2 separate regions of the Homo sapiens genome follow, and region 2 is linked to region 1. The links come from fine-mapping of genetic effects on plasma protein levels. Region 1 holds a variant in brackets. A gene starts in the other region. All regions are shown on their reverse strands.

Region 1 (8,326 bases):
GGTCTCATTATATAGTTGGTAACATGATGTCATCATGGTTGGATTCCACTTGCCATATAAGATTCCGGAAGGCAGGGATGTTTAGTTAGTAAATTTTGAGCTAAGTAGTAACAGATCAGTTTTTCCTATTTTATGTTGGGGGATGAAGATACAACAAATGACTATTGCTACATGGAAGAAAGCAATCTGAACAGGAGCTGAGAATTTCTGGGTTCCAAATTCAACATCATTTTCTTGGGTGACGGTCATCAAGATAAGAATAGGCGCTCAACCAAGAAAGAGCACCCAGATAGCAAGTTTTGTGCTGAACACTGAGATCCAGGCTTAGCCCTCTTTGATAAGAACAGAAGCTTAGCAAAGAGGGCTGAAGTCTCATAGTTGCCAAAAGCACTTTTCAAAGCTATTTTCTCATTTAAGCCTTACAACAGCCCTGTGATGTCAGTGTTTGAAATCCTCATTTGGCTTGGGAGGAAGGAAGACACAGGGCCATAAAGTGGCAGGGTTGGGAATGGATTCTTGGGCCCAGGATTTTCCCTGTATGAAATGGCCTCTGTCAAAAATAAGGTGAGGTTTTGATGGTAGTATGATAGTATAAAGCCCAGGGGGCCTAGAAATACTGAAATCTTACCTCCCCAATGAGGTGGATACATTTACCTGGTGACACAGGACAACAAGAATAAAAATAATTAAAATTAAAAATTTTAAAAAAGCAAAAGATTTTTTTTTCTCTTTCTTTCATTCCTTTTTTTTTTTTTTTTTTTTAATTTAGAAATGGAGTCTCACAGTATCAACCAGGCTGGAGTCCAGTGTGTAATCATAGCTCATGGCAACCTTGAATTCCTGGGCTCAAGCAATCCTCCTGTCTCAGCCTCCCAAGTTGCTAGGACTACAGGCATGTGCCACTATATCTGGCTAATTTTTTTTTTTAATTTTTGTAAAGTTGGGATCTTGCTATGTTGCCCATCTGGCCTTGAACTCCTGGACTCAAACATTCTTCCCTCCTTGGCCTCCCAAAGTGCTGGGATTACAGCCGTGAGCCACCATACCTAGCCTCAAATCTGAAATTCTGAGTTAGCAGTCCAGGATGGGGCTAGAGAATTTGCATCCTCATGGACCACAATAGCAAGCAGCACTGACCTACAGGATATAGCCTAGGCTTTTTAACCTCATCGAATGGACTTCCATACCTAATTTTTTACTGTCTCTTTAGCATCATTACATGCCATCAGGTCACTTTTCACTTCATGTAGCACGTGTAGCATGGTGTTTGGGGAGTACTACAAAAATTTTGTTTCAAGGCTCTATCTGCTGTTTTTCTTAAACCTCTTCCTAATTTCTCCCAAAGGAGAGAAAGTTGCTGTGAGTTGAACTGACTCTGGAATAGTTTTTGGGCTATATTTGCCATATATGTGGAAAGATTAATGATTGAAAGTGTCATCTCTCTCTTGTTTATTCTGCACTGATGGGCTAGGACCCACTTCACTGCTCAAGGACCTCTGGCCTGCTTGTTCTGTCTCATTCTCACCTCTCTTCCACCCAAGTGTCAGAAGTGGTAGCATAACCATTGGGAAGAGTAGGCCTGACTCCTTCATTATCGGTCTCTCAGTGGCTCTCCATGTTTCTGTGTGTCTCTGTCTTTCTTGTTCACTTCTGAGGCAGGAGGATCACTTGAGCCAAGCAGGTCAAGGCTGCAGTGAGCTGTGATTGCACCACTGCACCCCAGCCTGTCTCAAAAACAAAAACAAAAAACGAACCTGGGGCCTGGGAAATTGTGTGTTAATTCCCTTGAGGTGACTTTTGCATTGGCTACAGTATGAGAACCACTGGACTGGTTCACCAGAAGGGACTGAAAGGTTTCAGGGAAGGATGGGGCATATTTGGTATTTTCAGGGTGGTTATACAGCCTATCACCCCTTCACCTGATGGCTTCCATCTCCTCAACCCACCAGCCAGGGTTGGGCTTTCAGCCGCTGTTTTAATTTGCCTAATATGGCCTGTACGACTGTAGCTGATTGGGCCATGTGAAGACACCTAACCCAAGCTAGGCCAATCAGATGATCACTCCCACATTCCCTGGTTTGCAGGAAGTCCAATTTGTTTCATTCACTTACCTCAGAACCAGTTGGGTTGTCCTTCTATGCCTACTATGTCTACTATGTCTACTTCTTTATTTTTCTATTTATGTCTTCCTTACGTGGGTTTCTTCTTTTCCTTGGACCTCTATCTGACCTACCCTTGCCTGGTTTTTCTCTTGTCTCTCTCTCTTGCCTTATTATTCCCTTTTCTGCTTTCACTCAACCCTGTCTTCTTCATTTAGCCTATGAAAATATAAAATGAAATTATTGTATACCTCTAGAAGTTGTATATTTATGGAATAAAGTTTTATGTTCCTTGCTCTGAATTTAAAAGCAGTGTAACTTAAATTACATAATTGTAATGATCATTCCTATAATAGAATCTATGCAACCTTAAAAATAAAAGGTGAGCCCAATCAATGCCTATTTCCATTTTTCAGATTTTAATTAACATCACCTAAACTGGGGATTAAGTAACTTGTGGCCTTTGAATCTGCTTTTTATACCTATTACTGCAGTTTTCTTCATTACAGATGATCCCCCAAACACCAATTTCCCATTGGCTCCAGTTGTTCAAGGTAGTAAAACTGCACATAAAAGAGCTTTTAAAAAATAGCCTAAATCTGGAATGTAATCAAGTGTACCACAAACATAGTTGCCTCATCAACAACAAATACTGTTTATATCCCCTATGGATTGAGAGTCCCTGATACGTGCATCAGGAACCGTCTCTGAGTAGTACATCCTCATTCTTCTCTGGTTCCCTGGTGGTCTATCATCTATTCAATCCAATTTAGTTGAACAAACATTCATTATGCACCTATTAAGTGTTAGGGATTTTCAGATAGTGTGCTACCACTTTTAAATAACAGAGAAGCTTCCCATTAGCGCACACATTGCCCAACTCCGCTAGCTGAGCCTGGTGAGTATAAATAAATGGAGATACAGGTTGAGTATCCCTTATCTGAAATGCTTAGAAGCAGAAGTATTTTGAGTTTTGAATTTTTTTCAGATTTTGGAATATTTACATTATACTTACAGGTTGAGCATCCCAAATCTGCAAATCCCAAATGTGAAATGAGTATTTCCTTGGAGCATCATGTCAGTGCTCAAACAGTTTCAGATTTTGGAACATTTTGGAGTTTTGATTTTTGAATTTGGGGTACTCAAGTTGTATTAGCATTGGGCAAAGGAAAGTTAATGAACGTAGGCTGAGCACCACAGTGGGCTCTGTGCCAAACAGTACAGTCATACAGGCCATATTAGGCAAATTAAAACACAGCTGCTGAAAGCCCACCCCTGGCCGGTGGGTTGAGCCGATGGAAGCCATCAGATGAAGGGGTGATAGGCTGTATAACCACCCCCAAAATACCAAGCTAGGTGCTTTTGGTGTATTAGAGTTTAATTATCACAACAATTTTTGAGCTTAGGTGTTATTGTCACCCTTTTTACTGATGGAGAAACGGAGGCTTTAATAAGTTAAATGAATTGCAAAACAAGTCGTAATTACTGTTTATTTTTTGGTGTATTTTTTTATTGTGGTAAAATACGTATAATGTAAGCATAATATATAACCTAACATAACATTTGGCCACGTGCGGTGGCTCATGCCTGTAATCCCAGCACTTTGGGAGGTCGAGGCAGGTGGACCCCTTGAGGTTAGGAGTCAGAGACCAGCCTGGCCAACACGGTGAAACTCCGTCTCTACTAAAAATACAAAAATTAGGCGGCGTGATGGTACGTGCTTGTAATCCCAGCTAGTCAGGAGACTGAGGCAGGAGAATTGCTTGAACCTTTTGAACAACAACAACAAATGTAACATTTAACCATTTTTAACTGTACAATGCAGTGACATGAAATATATCCATGATGTAGTATAATCATTACTACTATTTCCAAAATTTTAAATTATCCTACACAGAAACTCTATACCCATTAAACAATAATTTCCCACTACTCCCACCTCACCCACCTTGGTAGCCTCTATTCTACTTTCTGGTCACTATTGTTTCTAATGATACTTAGCTGGCATTACTGGGAAGCAGCAGAATGTGGTGATGTGAATGACGGCTCTAACACCAGAAGCCAAAGTTCAAAACTTGACTTCTTTAGGCCTAAAATTTATTTTTGTAAATCTAGCACACTAATTGCAATTTCTTTTTCCATTTCAAGCAGAAGAGGCAAGGTCTCAGCTGTATTTTGGTCAGAAAAGCTAGATAACTTCATACATAGGAAATGACTAGTTGGCTTCAGAATATAGAACTCAGGAAGACATTTCTGATGGAAATTACAAGGATATATTAATAGTGGTGCAGTCCGGGCGCGGTGGCTCACGCCTGTAATCCCAGCACTTTGGGAGGCCGAGGCGGGCGGATCACGAGGTCAGGAGATCGAGACCATCCTGGCTAACACGGTGAAACCCCGTCTCTACTAAAAATACAAAAAGTTAGCCGGGCGTGGTGGCGGGCGCCTGTAGTCCCAGCTACTCGGGAGGCTGAGGCAGGAGAATGGCGTGAACCCGGGAGGCAGAGCTTGCAGTGAGCCAAGATC[A/G]TGCCACTGCCCTCCAGCCTGGGCGACAGAGCCAGACTCCGTCTCAAAAAAAAAAAAAAAAAAAATAGTGGTGCAAAGAAGTTATGAGGGGCCAGGGAACCTTCTGATTTGTGGAAGGATCCCAAAGTGTAGGTTATAAGTCTGGTGCTGAAAAAGAAAAATCTTCTTTTTTTTTTTTTTAGATGGGGTTTCACTCTGTCGCCCAGGCTGGAGTGTCTCGGCTCACTGCAACCTCTGCCTCCCAGGCTCAAGTGATCCTTCCACCTCACCTCAGCCTCCCAAGTAGCTCGGACCACAGGCATACACCACCATGCCCAGATAATTTTTGTGTTTTTGGTACAGATGGGGTTTCACCATGTTGCCCAGGCTGGTCTCAAACTCCTGAGCCCAAGTGATCCGCCCGCCTCGGCCTCCCAAAGTGTTAGAATTACAGGCATAAGCCACAGCGCCCAGCCTTCAAAAAGAAAAATCTTAACTAGCAACAGAGACACACACACACACACACACACACACACACACGCACGCACAATTGATCCTTTTTATCTGGACAAGCCTGACTAATTATCTATGTACCTATCTATCTATGGACCAATGTGTAGCTTAAAATATTGGTACCCATTCTGCCTTGATCCGAGGGTAAAGAGCTCTCAGAGTTCTCAACAAAACAACTTGAAAGTAGCATTTCACTTGTCAGAGAGCGAGGATAACTGTACCTGAGGTAAACACACATCCAGTTCCCTTTGAGGTGCAGCTGAATAAGTGTAGCAACCAAACTATCTCCAAAGTAACAACTTTACACGACCCAGCAAGTTCACAGCAAAGTCATACAAGTCTAGGGAAATCACAGTGTTCCTTGAGAAGTGTCCCAGCCTGGGTCTTTGAAAGATGGACACACTTGTCATCTGCTAGAAGAAACCTTGGAGAAAAACAGGTCTAGGGGTGACAGCTGAGGCCAGCCCATATGAGCCAATTAATTTTGGTCTAATAGCTGTACCTGTCTGAACCAGGTTAATAGTATCTATTGCATAAAGCAGATCTGGGCATTAAATGAGGAAATTTATGTCAACAGTGCTCGGCCATTGCCTGGCACAAAGAAAACGGTCAAGAAATACGATTTCTCTTAATGGCAGTAGAAGCTGCTGTTTCTAAAGCATTTCCTATGTTGTCAAAATTATATATTTTTCTTCTTTACGTCTTGCAAAGGAAGCATTATCATCTTGGCTTTTTGTTTTGTGTGTGTGTGTGTGTGTGTGTGTGTGTGTGTGTGTACAGATGAGGAAACTCAATCTCAGAGAAGTTAAATAATGGCCCGAGGCGCAGCTGGAAAGTGGTGGGACTAGAATTTAAGGCAGGCCGTGTGGGCTTCCTCAGTCGGCCTGCTCACCAGCCTGCTTTCATCTTTCAACACTCACTGCCCAATCTGACCTTACATAGTGGGCTCTAAAAAATAAAGTCAACCCAGAAGCCAGATATTTATTTGTTAGTAAGGGATGAGGGGAGAATATCGGGGGAAAATACTTGAGGATGTGTCCTGGCTTTACCTATTCTCCTCTGGATGGGCAAAGTTATGGACTTATTTCTTCAGACTTTTGGCAGTTGTTTGTTCCCACCAAGGAGGGCAGTGTCACTACATCAGTGCCACCAACTCAGTGGAGGGAGACAGGTGGTGATGCTGAACAGTTTCAGTGACAACATAAATCACAGCTGTTCACCCCATCAGTATCAAAATGGGGATAGGCTAGAGAGCTAATCGGGTTACAGGGTTGTTCAAAGAAAGATATTTGGAGGCAAATAGTTTCTGTGGAGACTATCTTATCCTCCATGACCTTGCTGGTGTATTCCGGTGTCCCTCCTAGCAGAGGGGTGTGGAGTTTGGGACCATAGATTTTGTAACATTTAATTCAACTCTGAAGCATGAATTCGCATTTAAAATAAAAGCAGTTTGGGGCTAGGTGTGGTGGCTCATGCCTGTAATCCCAGCACTTTAGGAGGCTGAGGAGGGCAAATCACTTGAGGTCAGGAGTTTGAGGCCAGCCTGGCCAACATGGTGAAACCCCATGTCTACTAAAAATACAAAAATTAGCTGGGAGTGATGAGTCACACTTGTAATCCCAGCTACTTGGGAGGCTGAGGCAGGAGAATCGCTTGTACCTGGGAGGCAGAGGTTGCAGTGAGCTGAGATTGCACCACTGCACTGCAGCCTGAGTGATAGAGTGAGACTCCATCTCAAAAATAAATAAACGAAATTAAATCACATTAAAGCAGTTTGGACTATAAGGTCTTAAAAGTTTTGTGCCTCAAAACTTTGGTGATGCCGTCTTTCCCAGTGGCGCTTGTCTTGTCCTTTTGGCTGACCTATTTTCTTTTCTCCTTTTACTGTGGCCACTCTCTAAGATTCCTTGTTTCTAGGGTCCTTCATTTCTCATAGCTTTGGGGAATTCAAGCCCTTGAAGTGTCACCTCAGGATTGGGTTGCCCTGAATGCCTCCCAACCCATCCTCCTCTCCTCAGTCCTTTCCTAAACTCATCTGCCTTGAATGCAACAACCAGAATTTTCTTACTTTCAACCTTTTACTCAATAGTTTCCAATTATTTTCTCCTTCTCAAGCTTAAGCCTTCTCAAATTGGATCTGACATCCACTTTTATTCAAATAATGTTTTTATCTTATGAAAAAAAGAGATCCATTTAGAATAATAATTGGGGCAACCTCAGTCAACTGAACTTGGAATGAGTATAACCTTCAGGGATAGCAGCCAATCATGAAACATTGCATGGATGGGGTAGCACAGAAAAGCAAAAGTCAACTTGAAAGGATTGCAGTAAAGGCAAGAGGGGAATTTACTTGATAATATAGCAAACTCAATGTTGAAGTGACTATAACATCAGGAGTTATTATTGGAAAGAAGATAATAGGTAGCACTGAAAATGTCATGGGCCCTATGTTTCTTCCTAACCAATGATTCGTTTTTCACTGGACTTACAACAGGAAGTAATTCATCCTGTTATAAAGAATGTAACATTTCCTTCCATTCACATAGCAGGCTGGAGTTTGGTGATTTTACTGGAAATGATGTTTTTTTTCCTTGGAGAGAATTCTGTTTCTATGAAGCACATACAGCTGCTGAAACCAATCTGAAACAGGTTAGAGAGGAAGAGAGGCTCAGCGGCATACAGGATAGCATGAGTTTAACTGGGAACATGTCAGAAGCAGCCAGCAACTTTTTTTTTTAAACAGGGAATATTGAGAGTAAGCAAAGCCTGCTTTTACAGAATTCAACTGATGCATTCCCAGTTAAAGATATTGAGATGGTATGTTAGCAAAGTCTATGAACTTCTTCTGTTAAGTAACTAGAACAGAGAGGAGAGATTTGGACATGTCAGCCAGAAAATGTGGCTCCTATGGAAGAGAGTGAAGGTAAGGTCAGAAGACTATTCCCAGTCCCACTGTGTGTGTTCTTACCTCTGCCTTAGTGATGATGGAATTACATAGCTATTGTGAGTCACTGTGTGCCTGTCCTTTATCACTCATTGTACTGAGGATAAAATCATAAATTGTTCACAGTTTTCATCATAGTCATTGTCAGTAAAATTCTTTTGTCATCTTCATTATGCCCAAAGTTCACCCTTCTCCCTTGCTGCCGTTGATTAGAGGTATTTGGAAAAGATGAGCCCTAGTTGATTTTCAGGTGCCAAGGTAAGTG
Region 2 (8,316 bases), not on the chromosome of region 1:
CCTTAGGCCTGAGGCCTCCTCTAACCCTCCCCACCCGCATCAGATCATTCCTCCCCTCGCCAGAAGCTGTGAAGGTCAACACGCCAAGACATGCGGACCTGACAGCACCCAAAAGGAAAGGCTTCTGCCAGCCCTTCCTGGGGGTCTCCAGCTCTCACCAACTCCCCTCCCGCCCAGCACTCGCAGAGCAGAGGGGCACTCTAGCCTACGGAACACCAGACCCTGCTAGGGGAGAGTCCCACTGTCCATCTTTCTTTCCCTCTCCTTCCCACACACCCCAAATGCACCCCACTCAGGTACCCCAGCCCTGCTCCCAGAGACAGCCAAGGTCACAGGAAGCCCCTCTCAAGAGAAAACAACAGTTACCAGGCTTCCAGCTGGACAGCTTACCACTGCGGCTCCTGCAGGGACCCCCTGGATTCTGCACCTCAGCCCCCTCACCCATTCCCATGACACCCCCTGCCTTCCCCCTGACAATATTCTCCCGGGACCCTCCACTCCTCCTGGGCCCCAAGGAGGAAAGGGGACGGAAATTTCATACCCCTTCCAAGGCCAGGGAGCACAGGAGGGGCGGTTCTAGGCAGGCAGGGGCCAGGTGTCCTTCTCTGGGGGCCTCTGAAGGTCACACTGTGGCCAGGCAGCCACTCCTCCCCCTCCTCCCTACTTGGAGGCCTGTAGCCAAGGCCTTTGTGCCAGGGTCTGAGGAACTTGCGGTGTTAGCAGCGACCCCTGTCCATGGCTTTCCTCTTGCCTCCTCTCCAAGGGAATTCTGGCTGAGGGAAGGCGTCAGAGAGGAGCGGAAAGGGACCCTTTAGAGTCCCTTTCAGAAGCAAGTTGGGTGGGCAGGTTTGGAGTTCCAAAAAAACACCTGCTCCAGGGCTGCCTTTCACCAGGACAAAGTGTGTGCAAGGCTGGCAGGAGCTCCTTTCCAGGGTTCAGGAAGGACTATTCCCATGCTGCCCGTGTCACAGCAAATTTCAAGCCATTTCTCCAAAAGGGTAAAGTGGGGCAATGACTCTTCAAATCCTCCCTTGACCCACCCCCACGAGAGCTAAAGCACAGCTCACTCGGAACTGTTGGCGAGGGAAGGGAAGCACACTGTCACCAAGTCGGGACTTTCGGTGGAATGTGACAAAGCGCCCAGTGGGCTCCCGCGCCACGACTTCTGACAGTGATCATCCTTTCCCTGGACTCTGGGGCCAGAAAGGGGTTAGATGGATCTTCTCCGCAGAGAGAAATGAAAATAAGCGGGGTGACAGGGGCTTCTCTCCAGGCTAAAAAGGAAATGGGTGAAGAGAAGGGGCGTCAGGAAATTCCTCCTAGCACTGGGCAGAGGTAGGGTCTGGAGACAGTAGGAAGGGGTAGGGATGGTTCTCTGGATCCCCGGGCTGGGGCTACCTCGAGAGGTCACCTTCCCGCGGAGGGCTGGCGGGGGGAGGGGTGCCGCTCGCCACTCTGGGCTCCCCATTCGGGCAGCCGAGGCTCCGGGAACACGCGGCCGGCCAGGCCCGGGCTGATGTAATCGGCTCCGCGCCGCGCGCACCCGGCCGGGCGGGGGAGGGCGGGCACCGAGCGGGACGCGAGCGGGGACGGGCGGGGTTGGCGCGGCGCAGGTGGCCCAGCAGGGAGGGGGGGTCCCCGCAGCAATCCACCCCAAAACTTTTCCCAAACTCGCGGCGAGGGCTGAAGAGACCGAGTGGCAGTGACAGCAAGCCCCCTCTCCCTCCTGCGCCCTGCCCCCTCCACGCTCTCTGCCCTCCCGCGGTCCAAGGTCCGAGCACCCCCTGCCCACTGGTCTCTGGCTCCCGCCCCCGCTGCTCAGACTTCCAGTTCGTCCGGGACCAGCGGCCGGGAGCAAACTTCAGCCGGCAGCGGCAACGCAAGCCCAGCCCCCTCGGCCTCCTCCTCCGGCTCCCGCCCTCGGCTGGTCGGCCCAGATCGTACGTGCGGTGACTCCGGTGGGTGGGCAGGGCCCGCGTGGGCGGTGAGCCTCTCTCCGGGTACCCTCCCACCTAGCGCGCGCGCCCCCTCCCCCTGCACCTAAGACGACAGAGGGGGACGCCGCACGCCTGGTGCCCATGGACCCGCGTGGGGCACGGAGCCCCCACGCGCGCGCTCGCACGCACGTCCCCAGCCGGGAGAGGCGCTCGCAGCGGCCCGCGGCGCCAGCAGGGCACGACCGCTTACCTTGGCATGGTGGAGGTAGAGCAGCAAGGCAAGGCTCCAATGCACCCAAGACAGCAGAAAGTTCATGGTTTCGGAGGCCCGACCGGGGCCGGCGCGGCTCGCGCTCCCTCTCCGGCTCGGGCTGTGGGGCGGCCCGCTCTCCTCGGCGCCTCGGCGAGCTACTCTTCCTCCCCGGCCCGAGGCCCGGGCCAGGGCCTGGGGAGCGCGCGCGGCTGGAGCACTGTCTGCGCACACCGCCGCCTCACCCGTCCATGAGCCCGGCTTCCGAGCGCCGAGTCGCCACTGCGGCCCCCTCTCCTCTTCCTTCTCTTCTTCCTCCTCCCCCTCCTCCGGCTGCGGCTCCTCCCGGCCCGAGCTAGCACTTCTCGCGGCTCCGCTCGGCTCGGCTTCCCCCGCGCGGACCACGGCTCCTCCGAAGCGAGAACAGCCCAGAAGTTGGACGAAAAGTTTCAGTGCGACGCCGCGAGCCCCGACCCCCTCCACCCCGCCTCCGGGCGCGGGCTCCGGCCCCTGCCCGCGGCTCGCCGCCGCGTCCACTGTCCGCCGCCGGCCGGGGAGGAGGTGGTAGCTGGGGCTGGGGGCGGTGTCTGTCTGTCTGTCCGTCAGCGCGACTGGTCAGCTGCGGGATCCCAAGGGGGAGGGCTCACGCCGCGCTCCGGCGGTCACCCCCAAAAGCAGGTCACTCACTTTGCCCCTGTCGCTTTCGCTGCTCGCACGCCCGCGCGCTCTCTCTGACCCCGTCTCTCTCTTCCTCGACTTCTCTCTGGAGCTCTTGCTACCTCTTTCCTCTTTCTGCTGGTTTCCAAAATCCACAGTGATTTGGGGAAGTAGAGCAATCTCCCCAAGCCGTCGGCCCGATTCAAGTGGGGAATGGCAAGCAAAAATAAATTAAAACGAGAAACAATACAGTTTTAAAAAAAAATGTTTAAGAAAAAAGAAGAGGGATAAAACCCGGATCAATGAATATCAAATTCCAGCACCGAGCGCCCTGGCCGGTGAGTCCGCTGACCGGTCCACCTAACCGCTGCGCCTCCCGACAGAGCGCTGGTGCTAGCCCCCAGCGCCACGACCTCCGAGCTACCCGGCTGCCCCAAGCCTCCGCGATCCTCCCCGCTACCAGCCGACTTTTAAAAAAAAAAGGGGGGGGCGCATGGCTCCGCCCCGCCGGGACCCCGCCCCCGGCCCGCCCCGGGGGGCGGGGACAGGCGAGCCTCAGCCCTTCCACACGCGGCTCGGGCCCGGGCTCTGCGGACGCTCAGTGAAGCCTGGCCCGCAGCCCGCCGCAATGAAGGGGAAGCTCGACCCCCACCAAGGTTCACAGCCTGAAAATTACCCATCCGCCCCCGGAAACTCTGTCCAGAGACACGCGCCCGCGGGGCATTGGCGAGGAGGGAGCAGGAAAGTGAGGTTACGTGCGGACAGGGCCTGAGAGCCGTTCCCTCTTTGCTAGGAATATTGAAGGGGGCAGGGGAAGGCGGAGAGCCGGACAGGGACGGGTGGGGAGAGGGACACACAGATCTATTGGAATCCTGGAGTGACCCCTGGCCTTCTCCCCGCTCCAACGCCCTCAACCCCACACGCACACACTCACTCACCCACACAGACACACACGTCCTCACTCTCGAAGACGCTGCTCGCTCCATTCACCCAGCTTCCCTGTGGTGGCCGAGCGCCCCCTAGTGACTGCCGTCTGCACACCCCGGCTCTGGCTAAAGAGGGAATGGGCTTTGGAAAGGGGGTGGGGGGAGTTTGCTCCTGGACCCCCTATTTCTGACCTCCCAAACAGCTACATATTTGGGACTGGAGTTGCTTCATGTACAGAGAGCCCAGGGCTGGGCACAGGGGCCACAGTGTGTCCCTCTGACAATGTGCCATCTGGAGCCCTCATCTGGCCTGCAGACATCAAAGTGAGCGGCAGCCAACAGGCTGGAGTGACTGGGGTCCTTTGGGAAGTGTCCAGGGATGCTTCCCAGGGGAGAAGAATTTGGCACCAAGTTTGTGGAGCTGAGAACGGGAAGCTGTGTGGTTCCGGGGTTAGTCAGTGACTGGGAGGGAAGAGGACCTGTTGGAGCCCACGTATGCACTGTGGAGTCTGGCAAAACCCAAAGGGGGAGGCAGCTGGGCAGACAGAGGCCCTTGTTCCTGCTGCCCCCCCAACCCCAGATGTTGCCAGGGAACTGAGGCCAGGGGGCTGGTGGGGGCGGGTGGAGGCCAGGGCCTGCGTGATGATTCAAACCTACCCGCCAGCACTAAGGAACGTCTGTAGGCCAGCTGCCCAGAGCTCCCACCAGGCCAGGGGCCAAGGCTTCTATCAGCCCAAGCCCAGACTCATAGCTCATCTTCTGAATAGAAATGGGGGTTTCGTCTCAGCTCCCCCATTCCCTCAGGATCCCTTGGCTACTTCTCCAGGCTCACAGCTTCTCCCCTATCCTTCCCCCAGTCCCCTCCCTTACCTCCAAGCCCCCTTTTCCTCCAACTCTCCACATCTTCCCTAAGTGCTCCCAAAGGCCCCATCCCATTCTTGCATATAGGAAGCAGCTTGGAAAAATTCCTAGCTGGTTTCTGACCTGGCTATTTCCAGGCTGCCCCAGGGAACAAAGTTGGGGCTCTGAGGCCTGTGGGAAGAGTGGGACCAGTCAGTCTGATTATCCACCCAGATCTTGCCAGGGTCTGGCCTACAGCTGGCATAGCCTCTGTGGAGGCATGGACTGAGAATGGGAATGCAGCAATTTCCCTCAATTTAACCAAAACGCTCCAGGGAGCTTACCTAGTCAGCCCCATCCTCAGCACATGTTGCTGTGGTTTGGTGGAGGTGCTAGGTTACCTCCCCAGTACCCCCAGTTCCATCGGTATGGTGTCCTAAGGCCCTTATGAGGAAAAGGGCTGGCTCCCACCCACCCCAACCCTCCCTTTCCATCATTCGTGCACTAGTCCTGTCTCCACCACTTGGCAGGCTCCCCAGCAGCAGGGACAAGGTCTTTGTACAGTTAGTAAATGTTTATTTCCTGGCTCAGGGCCCCCTCCCAGGCAGGCCTCCTCACCTGGGCTCCATGCTCTAGGCTGATGAACGGGATATGGAAGGGAAGCCACTAACTTTCCTCCTTGTGCGCCTCTAGCACCCCAGGAGCACAAGCTGTAGACATCTTGGGGCAGGATGGAGGCTCTGAGCCCTAAGGGCTCATTCTGGCCCCCTCCCTTGCATCCCTTCTCAACTCGGCCTTCTTCAGCCCCTAAAAGAGCCAACAGACCTGAAAGAGCAGGTCTTAGTAAAAAACAAATAAACAAATCTGAAGCTAAGAGGAGGCTGGAGGGGTTCCAAGGAGGGATAGCCATCACCAGTCACTCCGTGGCCCCAGGCACCCCCCACCCCCATAAGCCAACTGTCCTCCATGGTGGTACCCAGCAAGGTGTGTTACAACAACCTGTTTGTGTTTCCCTCTGGGGCTTTGCCCAGGGATCCAGGGGAGTGAGGGCACAGAATTCCTTTTATATAAGGCTAGGATTACAACCTGGCCTAGGGGTTTTTGAGCTACCTTCATTAGGGCGAGAAAGTATGGCCCACCTCCCCCCTTCATTGTGGAGATATAACCTGGCTGTGACCTGGAGGGGTTAACTCTGGATCCCATGCCCCAGTGTGTTGTCACCGGCATTTACAACAATGTACTCTTAAGGACTCAGCCAGTGCCCACATTGTCACCAAATTAAAAGCTCAAGTCACCTAGTCACCTGAGCTTTCAAAAAAGGGGAAAAAGCACAAAACAACAATCACAAGACCACATGTATCTCTGTGGCATCTTCCCTTCCATGGGCTTAGCCCCCTGAACAACTTGACTTCACTTATCCTCACCTCCCTCCCCAGGCTGCTTGCTGCAGGGGAAGGGGCGTCAGAGCAGACTGTCTCCCCAAAGAATCCTCCGAAGGCCCAGAGAGGGCACAAAGGGGCCCAGGGTCACCTAGCAGATTGGGGGAAGGGGCAGTGAAGCAGAGAGCAGCCCACACAGAGGTCATGCTGGCTCCCAGTTGAGGGGCAAACTCGGCCCCGCTTGGAGGGCCTCACCTTGGGAGCGCAGTGGCCACTCCCCACAGTCTGTGGCTCTGAAGGCAGTTCAGAAGGAGCCAAGGAGGAAGGGGAAGGTGTTCCAGGTGAGGGGGAAGGGGAGAAAGGGGTGGGGGTGGAGAAAAGTGCGAAAGGCAGCCAGGAGCCAGCGGCGGCCCCAGACAAAGAAAGTAGTGATTGGGCCAAGGCACAATAGTTGTACTTTGTCCTGATGTCCTGTCACCTCCAATATTCAGGGAAACTCTCGCCTGTGTGGGTGTGGGTGGTTAATCTAGAAGCCGGTGGATGAAGGGACAAAATCTCTCCTGAGATTGGAAAGAAGGTGAGGAGAGAGTCACTGGGTCTTGCTGTTTTCCACACATTTCTCCAAGTGGCTTCACTGCAATGGAAGGAGGTCTTGTCCTTCACTCCATCCCCTGACCCCCAGGTGACTAGCAGGACACTGATCTGCAGGAAGGGCAGGATACAAACCTGGTGAATTGAAGGAGAGAGAATTGGGTTGGTTCCCCTCAATTCCCTGACCCTGACTGTGGGTCAATCTCTGTCTCTCTCTCTCTCTCTCTCTCCCCGCCTAGGTCTTTGCAACAAAGCATTAAAAAGACAAAGAGAAAGCAAAGGAAAGGGCCTCTTTGGTCCAGTGCCAATGTCCTAGCCCCATGTGGATCTGGAGGTTTGACTTGAGGTAATGATAAGTAATGATGGCCAACTGATAAAAAGATTGGAGCAGAGGAAGCCAAGGAGGGTAACTCTCCCAAGAGGATCCAGTCAGGAAAGGGGGAAGGAATGGGGAAGAGGACCTAGCTGGAGAGAGGGCAGGGCAGAGTCACTGTCTGGGGAAGCTCACCTACCCACACCACCCCTAGGCCCATCAGCCTCTGCCTCTCCTTCATGGGCCCCAGTCTAATCCCCTGACACTAAGCTGTCCCTGATGAATTGCATCTCCCCAACACCCCCAGGCATGCTCACCTTCTGACACTCCAATCTCTGCTATTCCTCCAAGTCTGACCCCAAAACATGCCCATTTCTGCCCCTGTTCACATCCTCCACCCCTACCCTGTCTTGGAGGGAGTCCTTCTGCTGGGAAGAAGGTATGGCATGTGGTGGCAACTAAGGTCCCAAAGCTGTATCTGCCCTTTTGACCTGGGCCTTGCCTGAGAGCTGAGCTAAGCTCCAATTTGTGAATATTTGTAGGGACTACCAGGCACCAGGCTCCATGCTGATTTTATAGGAGGTACAGGGACATCTAGGTAGGGCAGTGGAAAGTACAGGGACTTTGGATTCAAATGGACCCAAGTCACATTCCTGGCTCTGCCACTCACTGTGTGGCCTTAGGTTATTCAACCTCTCTGAGCCACAGCTCCCCTCATCAAAAATAGGAGTAAAAATCCCTGCCTTAGAGAGTTGCTGCACACAGACAAATGTGCACACAGCTGCCCCAGAAAGCAAGATGAGAAAGAGGCCCTGGGGGAGGCACAAGTGTTGTGAAGGTATGGAAGCAAAGAGCCAGACTGGCTAGAATGGGCATCTGGAAGGGCTTCCTGCAGGAGGTGGCTTGGGACATGTATTCCACAAGCAATTATTAAACTCAGCTTGTGATCTCTGCTTTGTGTTGCACCCTGGGACTACAACAGTGTCAGTGGGGGCTTCCTGTCTGGAGGTAAACCAAAGAGTAAACCAAAAATGGGAATTCTCTGAGGAGCATTTAATTGCTGGGAGTAGGGGAAGGCTTCCTGGAGATGATACTTGAGTTGGGTCTTTTTTTTTTTTTTTTTTTTTTGAGATAGGGTCTCACTCTGTCGCCCAGACTGGAGTGCAGTGGCGCCATGTCGGCTCACTGCAACCCCTGCCTCCCAGGTTCGAGCAATTCTCCTGCCTCAGCCTCCGGAGTAGCTGGGACTGCAGGTGCCTGCCACCACACCTGGCTAATTTTTGTGTTTTTAGTAGAGATGGTGTTTCACCATGTTGCCCAGGCTGGTCTCGAACTCCTGACCTCAAGTGATCGGCCCACCTCTGCCTCCCAGAGTGCTGGGATTACAGGCGTGAGCCACCGTGCCTGGCCTTGAGTTGGGTCT

Direction of the effects. Alleles are on the strand shown, and positions count from the first base shown. The strength of an association depends on the size of the effect and on how common the allele is.
For the plasma level of the protein whose gene starts at base 3,289 in region 2, allele A in region 1 goes with a higher level than allele G (strong association).

What was found. PIP is the chance, under the fine-mapping model, that this variant and not a neighbour inherited with it causes the effect. Protein levels are from antibody-based Olink assays in UK Biobank. Linkage for the fine-mapping came from a reference panel and not from the study's own genotypes, which makes the PIPs less certain.
Region 2: it holds the start of VEGFA, and the variant in region 1 is fine-mapped to the plasma level of the VEGFA protein (UK Biobank, PIP above 0.99).

Annotation. Positions count from the first base shown.
Region 1 is chr9:2,691,214-2,699,539 of GRCh38, reverse strand. LOC105375957 (a long non-coding RNA gene) reads left to right here and starts at 5,079. Exons shown (of 3, transcript XR_929436.3): 1 at 5,079-8,326. The variant A/G (reference allele first, on the strand shown) is at 4,626.
Region 2 is chr6:43,765,184-43,773,499 of GRCh38, reverse strand. It overlaps VEGFA (vascular endothelial growth factor A), which reads right to left and starts at 3,289. Exons shown (of 8, transcript NM_003376.6): 1 at 2,188-3,289. The coding sequence starts at 2,793. RefSeq lists enhancers at 1-566, 567-1,332, 1,333-2,098, 2,099-2,864, 8,227-8,316 and silencers at 1,320-1,839, 1,910-2,849, 3,227-3,476.